Homo sapiens: one gene and its partner. The protein of the gene in region 1 purifies or fractionates together with the protein of each later gene. This does not show direct contact. Each region holds a gene or a part of one and is shown on either strand. Other genes may lie near its edges.

Region 1 (4,039 bases):
AAGAAAGAAAGAAAAAAAAAGACTTGAGCCCTCAGGCCGGGCGTGGAGGCTCATGCCTGTAATCCTAGCACTTTGGGAGGTCGAGGCGGGTGGATCACCTGAGGTCAGGAGTTTGAGACCAGCCTGGCCAACATGGTGAAACCCAATCTCTACTAAAAATACAAAATCAGTCAGGCGTGGTGGTGGGCGCCTGTAATCGCAGCTACTCAGGAGGCTGAGGCAAGAGAATCACTTGAACCAGGGAGGCAGAGGTTGCAGTGAGCCGAGATCGCAGCACTGTACTCCAGCCTGGGTGACAGAGTGAAATTCTGCCAAAAAAAAAAAGACTAGAGCCCTCCTACATAAAAAAAAAAAAAAAAAATGGAGACAGGGTCTTGCTCTGTAGCCCAGGCTGGAGTGCATGGTGCAATCATAGCTCACTGCAGCCTTTACCTCCTGTGCTCAAGGGATCCTCCCACCTCAGTGTCCTGAGTAGCTGGGACTATAGGTGTATGCCACCATACCCGGTTCATTTTTTATTTTATTTTAGTTTGTATTTTTGTAGAGATGGGGTCCTGCTATGCTGTCCAGGCTGGCTTTGAATTCCTGGCCTTAAGTGATCCTTGTGTCTCCACCTCCCAAAGTGGTATTACCAACGTCAGGCACCATGCCTGGCCTTAGAGTCCTATTTGAATTTGGGGACCCTCTTGGGACTGGGCTATTATTTAGGTCTGGAGGCACAGTCAGGTCTGGGGACCCTGGCATCCTACCCGGTCCTCGCGGCTGCCTGTCTCCTCTTCTTCAGGACCTCGTGAACTGGAGCCGTCGCTGCTGCCAGGGATTCGCATCAGGTTCTTTTGCTCGGAGAAAGAGGCTGAGGCTGACAAACAGCGACCGGTGGAGTTAAGCGATGGGCGGGGTCACAATGTGTGCAGACCAATAAGCGGGAAGAGAGAGGACTGGGAACCAATGAGGCTGATTGGGTAGGGCTGTTGGAAACCAATAAGAATCATTCCCACCGAGGAGTGTGACCCTGGGAAGGCCTAGTTAGGGCTTAAGGAGGGAACCAGAACGTGAAGGAGAGCTAAGCCCTGTGCAGAGCTGGAAATGGGACTGGAGCCAAGGCCCAAGGCCAGGTCAGGTCACTGGGCAGGCAGGGCGCGTGTGGGGCTGGGGCCTCGGGAGCCGGGGCGGGGCTCAGGCACTAACCCTTGCTGTGGCGCCAGCAGCAGAGGGCCACCCCAGTGATGACCATAAGGAGAGTTGTGGTGGCAGCGGCCACTCCGGCCACTATCCGCACAGTGGGCAGCAAGTCTGCAGGGAGCAGAGGGGACATCCTGAGAAGGCTGAGGGGGAACCAGGAAGCGGGGGCTCAGGGATTGAGTTTGGGATTCCTGGGTTCAAAAGGTCGCACATTTGAAGATTCAAAGGCCCTTGAATTTGGGGTTCCCCAAGTTTGAGAGTGAGTTTAAACTCCCTGGCTTTAGGGAGTCTTAGAATTTGAGGGGTCCTTTACTTTGCAATTTGCTTTGCAATCATTGGAGTTTCCCTTTTTGGGGCCCCTAGGTGTGAGGAGTCTCTCAGTTTAGGATTCAGAATGTGAAGGCATTTGTGGTTGAGGGGTGTCTTGGGAATCAATGAGCCCACAGTTTTGAGACTCCCGAGGTTTGGAGGTCTCCTCTGCATTTGAGGGTATGAGGTTTTGCAGCCCTCGGCTGGGGGATCCCTGCGTTTGTGGGGTTTAGACTCTCCAGATTTGGGGTCTTCGGGCTGGGGTCTCACCTCTACGGCCCAGGCTGGCCTGGGCACCTCCCTCGCCCAGCCGGTTCCGGGCACTGCAGTTAAAGCTCCTGCTAAAGTCAGACTCCTGGGTCCCCGAAATGTGTAGCACAGAGATCAGGCCCGGACCCAGTCCCCCGCGGCTCTCTGGGGCAGGGAATGTCTCCACCAGGAACCGGCCCTGCGACCCCGCCTCCAGGAAGCCCTCATCCCAAGACCAGACCTGGGGGCACAAAAGAGGGAGGACACGGAGGAGACTGAGGAGGGGAGGAAGAAGCAGGAGGGATGTCTGGGAAGTCAGAAATGGTCACAGTAGTTTCGGGGGGCCAGGTGGGAGGTCAGGGATCACGGCTGGATGGGTCACGGGAGGAGTGACATTTCCTTACCACGGCATCTGGGGCGGGAGAGGCGAAAACCAGACACTGGAGGCGAGCAGGGCCCCTCAGGAAGGCAGGCGCAGAGTGCAGGGCGGTCACTACTGGGGGAGCTGGGATGGAGACTGTAGGTCACTCAGAGGAGAGGTCTTGCCCTCCCCAAAGGCTGTAACAAAGCCGGGTCTGTCCAGCGCACTCTCCGCTAACCTCAATCAATCAGGCCACGCCGCCTCCAAACTCCGATTCTCCTAAAAGCCTCGCCTTCAATAGGTCCGGTCTCCAGCCCCCGCTGGGTGTAAAGCTCCTTCCAGGCCACTCCCACTGCATTAGCCCTTGCCCCCTCTGTCCGCTCCCTATCCCAGGACGGGCCAGGTCCCCTAGGAAGCCCCGCCTTCTCACCGTTCACAGTCAGCCGAGCCTCCGCGGCGCCGCCCCGCAGGCCCGATAGCCCAGCCTCAGCTCTGCACACATAGTCGCCTGCGTCCTCGGGCCCCACCGACGGAAGACGCAGTGTGGCTCCAGAGCCCAGCACCTGCGACAGGGAAGGGGCGTCAGAAGCCGGATTTGTAAGGAAGCCTGGTCCCCCTCCAGCCACCGCCTCAGATTTAGGGCTGTACCTGCGCGCCACCGCGGCGGGTCCAGGTTACCCGTGGAAGCGGGTTCCCGCGCCAGGCGCAGCTGAAGGAAGCGTCTTCCCCCACGTCCACGGACACGGGCTCCGGCTTTGCCTGCAGAATCGGCCCAACTGGACGAAAGAGACTAGGGGTCACATGGCCGGGGCGGAATGCAGCCACTGACCTGGGATCAGCCAGCCCCACAGAAACACCACACCCTCTAGGGCGCAAGAATATGCCCCAGCTCCACACTCTCCTCCTCCTAATACCCCACGCTCGCTCTCCCGGCCCCGCCCCTCCAGGCCCCGACCCTCAACAGCCCTGAAAGCCACGGCCACCTTTGACCACACCCACAGGCCGGCCCCAGCTCACACAGCACATCCAGCGCAGTACTGCGGTTGGCGCTACCCACGGCGTTGCTGACCTCGCAGGACACGGGCTCAGTCAGGAACGAGGCGTCTGCCACGACCTCTAACCTTGGCCCGCGGGCCCCGAGCACCGGAGAGCCCCCTTTTGCCCACCTGAGGAAATGGTGGCGCTGTTAACGTTGTCCTGGCCTCTCTGGCACACCTACTCAGGTCCCAGCCCTTCCCAAGCTCACTCTTGGGGCTGGGGAGAGGTGGGTCTTCGTCCTCACCTGTAGCCTGTGACAGGAGGCTGGGCTGTGGCCTGGCACAGGAAAATGACCTTCTCTCCCTCCTGCACAGTGTGTGGCGAAGCAGACAGAGTCACCTCTGGGGGGTCTGTGAGGGTGGGACAATGGTCAGATGGGCAAGGACCAGGAACACCTCCGTCACTGGCCTAGGTGTCCAGTCCCTGGTTCCTCCATCCCAGGAGTCTGGGCCCCTAATCCCCTTCTCCCTTTGAGCCAGGAGTCTGGGCTTTCAGTTCCCAATTTCCCCAGTTACCTCAATGTGCCAGCCTTCTGCCCTCTCCTAGTCTCCCCGATGTGAGAGTCAAGGCCCAGCTTTCTCTTTCCCCAGGGACCCCAGCTGTCTGTCCTCTCCTGCTCGGAGTCTCACTCTGCTGCTGAGTGGCATGATCTCGGCTCACCGCAACATCTGCCTCCCGGGTACAAGTGATTCTCCTGCCTCAGCCTCCCAGGTAGCTGGAATTACAAGTGTGTGCTACCACGCCCGGCAAATTTTTGTATTTTTAGTAGAGACGGGGTTTCGACATGTTAGCCAGACTGGTCTCGAACTCCTGATCTTAGATGATCCGCCTGCCTCGACCTCCCAAAGTTCTGTGAGTACAGGCGTGAGCTACCATACCCAGCCCTCTCCTGCTATCTTA
Region 2 (4,039 bases), on another chromosome or scaffold:
TAATCTTAATGATGTCAAGTTTACAGAGGAAAATAAAGAATTGTAACGCACACTCATGTCCCCATGTAACCATGCAGGGCGCTGGGGCTAAGGAAGGTCAGGAATCATGTCTCATTTGTTTTCTACCTTTCTCTTTTCTACTTTTCTATTTCTTTTTCTTTTTTTTTTTTTTTTTTTTGAAACTGAGTCTCGCTCTGTCACCAGGCTGGAGTGCAGTGGCACGATCTTGGCTCACTGAAACCTCCAACTCCCTGTCTCAAGCGATTCTCCTGCCTCAGCCTCCCAAGTAGCTGGGATTACAGGCACATGTCACCACGCCCAGCTCATTTTTGTATTTTTAGTAGAGACAGGGTTTCACCATGTTGGTCAGGATGGTCTCGATCTCCTAACCTTATCATCCGCCCGCCTCGGCCTCCTTAAGTGCTGGTATTACAGGCGTGAGCCACCATGCCCGGCCTTCTCTTGCTCTTAATACAGATTTCTATACACATTAGCAGTTCAATAAATGTTCAACAACTGCAAAAAAATAAGTGTCTAATCACATTAAATAAGTTCTTAACTGAATTTCTTACCCCCACCCCCACAAAAGACTCTCTTGTGCTAAAGAAGCATAGGTTGGTTTAAATAACAACAGAAAAACAAAAACTAAACTGCTCTGAATGGTACCAGATGAGAGTACTAACAGACGAGTCTTGGCTCATTTCAATTACATGACCCTGCCATATCTATTTTCCTATGACATGAGAACCACACAGCCAGTCCTCTATTTACAGTTATTGCATGAGTAAATCAGTATATATTTACATGGTAACTATTATGAGCAAGCTATTGGGAAAGATAAAGTAGTTTATTTACCTCCCTAATCTCCACCACCCACAGCAACAACATACTATGTGCAAGGCCCTGATTTAAGCAGTTTACTGCAAGGTGTACAATCTCATCGAAAAATCTTGGTGCCAGATGTGTTTCTGAATTTAGAAATGTCCAGACCTTTAGACAGGAAATATACTTTATATACCATATGTTATGTAATACACCATTAGGGTCTATGGTGCAACCCCATAAACATATTAGTAATTCTATAGCAAAACAAAATAAAGATCAACATTAAGTAGAATAAAGACTATAAATACCCTATGTCAGTTTAAGTCAGGTTTTGCCACCACATGAGTTTTGGCATCTAAGTTACCAAATAAAATCTTTTTCAGTTTTCAGAGCTTTAGAAATTTAAAAATTGCAAACAAATTGTGGGCCTAGGCCGGGGGAGGTGGTTCATGCCTGCAATCCCAGCACTTTGGGAGCCCGAGGTGGGTGGATCACCTGAGGTCAAGAGTTTGAAACCAGCCTCGCCAACATGGTGAAACCCTGTCTCCACTAAAAATAAAAAGTTAGGCCGGGAGCAGTGGCTCACGCCTGTAATCCCAACACTTTGGGAGGCCGAGGCAGGTGGATCACGAGGTCAGAAGATCGAGACCATCCTGGCTAACATGGTGAAACCCTGTCTCTACTAAAAATACAAAAAACTAGCCTGGCGTGGTGGCACGCACCTGTAGTCCCAGCTACTCGGGAGGCTGAGGTAGGAGAACCGCTTGAACCCAGGAGGCGGAGGTTGCAGTGAGCCGGGATCATGCCACTGCACTCCAGCCTGAACGATAGAGTGAGAGAGCGAGACTCCGTCTAAAAAAAAGAAAAAGAAAAAGAGAAAAGAAAAAGTGGGCCTAGCTAATTCATGTAATCTTTGCAAGTACCATAAGAGGCAAGTTCTATTACCCCTTTTTTACATATGAGATAACTGAGGTACAGGGAGGTTTACTGACTCACCCAGTGTCTCACAACTATTAAGTCTCCTAGCTGGAATTGAAACCTAGGTGGCCTAGCTCCAGAGCTTGAGCTCTTAACAAGTATGCTCTACAACCTCTCTCAGAAACCACTTCGGAACACCAAACACGTGAAAAGTAAAACAGTATTAAATGATCTAACATCAAAAAATTAATAGGAGAAACATCACAAGACAGTATTTATTCATTATTCAATAACTATTTATAAAGTGCATACCATGTGCTGGGTGCTCAGAATACAACAATGAGCAAACCGGATGAGGTCTAGGTCGCCTTCATGAAGCCAGAGGCAAGTGGGGAGATGGCCAGGCATCAAATAAGCATAATTATGACACAACAGGGCAAGTGTGTGACTGCTGTTCACCTTCAGAGGGGGAGATCTAGTTCAATGGGGAATAGTGTAATAGGACCTGGAATTTGAAATGACAAAAAAGAAAGGCATGGCATCCATTTGACAAGCACCCACTGTGCACGTACTCTATGCCAGGAATAATGCTAAGCACAAAAGTTCCAAACTGGGGAAAATCAGTTTAAACCAATAGAGATTTGTGAAAGGGAATAATAAGGACATATGGGAAAGTAGGCTGGGATCAAATCAAGTTGACCCTGCAGGCACTGATGAAGGTTATTTTGCAGGTTATTCCCCCACAATATTAGGATTTACTCCTATGGAATGTCAATAATCATCTGCATTCCTATTTGGGACCAACTAGACCTCAAAGCTGGATTGCTTTCAAGGAAGGGCTTAGGGCAATAAATTCATTTAAGCCTCAGGAAACACAGTAACCCTAATCTCTCAAGGAATAAAGGTATGGCCATTTGAAAATGTTGGAGAGGCAACAGGTAAAAGAAAATGATAAGCCCTTCTTAAAATTCCAAAGGCCCTTTCTAAAACCTAGGTTATTCCTTTATACAAAATAAAATTTCCAACCTTCCAAAGGAAACATATTTCCATGAGAAAATAAGATATCATTCTTTGAAAAATAAATTCTTAAGTTGAACAATGATCTGATTTTTAATAAAGTTGGTGACAACTTACCTTGTAGCACAAGTCACAATGTGACAGTGGAAAGTAAACTGCCTTTTAACATACTCACCTCAGGGTTCCCATTCCCCCATCCCCTTACCTAAACAGAGTAGAGGAACCGAATTACATGATTATTTAGCATACTGATCATAGAGTTTTTTTTATTCTCAGGTATTAATATAAATGACTGAATGAGTAGACATTCTATTTATCCTCTGCAAAACATTTTTTTTTAAATTTCCCTGGATAATTTTTTTAAGCCAATGACCTTCCCCAGGAAAGACTCTTCAGTGGCTTCCTATTGTTCTGAGAATCAAACCCAAATTCTTTCTCAGGACCTCCAAGTCCTATTTATCGGTTATTGAGCTGCTTCTAGGCTCTGTAACATCTTCTTTAATCCGCCATGCTGGCTTGCTTTCTGCTCTTCAAAAACGCCAAGTCTCTTTTTCCCCCCTCAAGGCCTTGGCTCTTACTCTTCTCTCTGCAAGAATGTTATCTCGGGAATGTTCTCCCAGATCCTGACAAGGTAGGCCTATTCTCTCTTCTCTTTCAGGTCTCTGCTCAATCATCTTCTCTGAAAGGCCTTTTCTGACTTCCCACACTAAAGTAGGCCCTTCCTAGCTATCTGTATCATATTCCCCTACTTATTTTCATTGCTCTTACTACAGTCTATAAGGATCTTCTTCATTTGTTTGCTCGTTTATTGTCTGTATTCTCTGGTAGAATATAAGCACTGTGATACTCCACAAGAGCAAAGATCATGCCTTATAAGGTTTATCATTGTGCCTAACACAGGGCCTTGGCACACAAGTACCCAGTAGATTTTGTAAAATGAATTAGTAAATGAATGAATGATACATAAAAACCTGATTGTTATGAATATCAGTAACTTGAGAAAGCCATTTTTATAATTTTGAGATATTTTCTCTAGGGCTATTCATTTCTCTACAGTCTTTCCACATTTTCTGAAATAATTCCTGGAAATTTGTTGTATTATTTCATAGCAATAAAAATACATCGGTTTCAATCAGTGGATTTAAGAAAAAAATATTTTCAAGAGGTTTTAGTGGTTTATCAAACATCAATAAAAATCAAACAATTTGAAAATTGGTCAGTCTCATTTCACTACTGCAAGTCAAATTACATGAAGAAGCATAATTTGAAATGTACATAA

The links. The genes of interacting proteins can lie anywhere in the genome.
Region 2: the proteins of KIRREL2 (region 1) and KLHL13 purify together in Homo sapiens (affinity purification with mass spectrometry; one large-scale study listed by BioGRID and IntAct). This does not show direct contact.

What each region holds. Positions count from the first base shown.
Region 1 is NC_000019.10:35,859,747-35,863,785, reverse strand, and holds part of KIRREL2 (kin of IRRE-like protein 2 isoform c precursor), read right to left. Parts: intron 3,490-4,039; coding exon 3,384-3,489; intron 3,268-3,383; coding exon 3,119-3,267; intron 2,878-3,118; coding exon 2,750-2,877; intron 2,665-2,749; coding exon 2,532-2,664; intron 2,246-2,531; coding exon 2,145-2,245; intron 1,982-2,144; coding exon 1,762-1,981; intron 1,294-1,761; coding exon 1,189-1,293; intron 872-1,188; exon of another isoform or gene 860-871; coding exon 750-859; intron 1-749. UniProt on the Homo sapiens protein: May regulate basal insulin secretion.
Region 2 is NC_000023.11:118,110,220-118,114,258, forward strand, and holds part of KLHL13 (kelch-like protein 13), read right to left. Parts: intron 1-4,039. UniProt on the Homo sapiens protein: Substrate-specific adapter of a BCR (BTB-CUL3-RBX1) E3 ubiquitin-protein ligase complex required for mitotic progression and cytokinesis.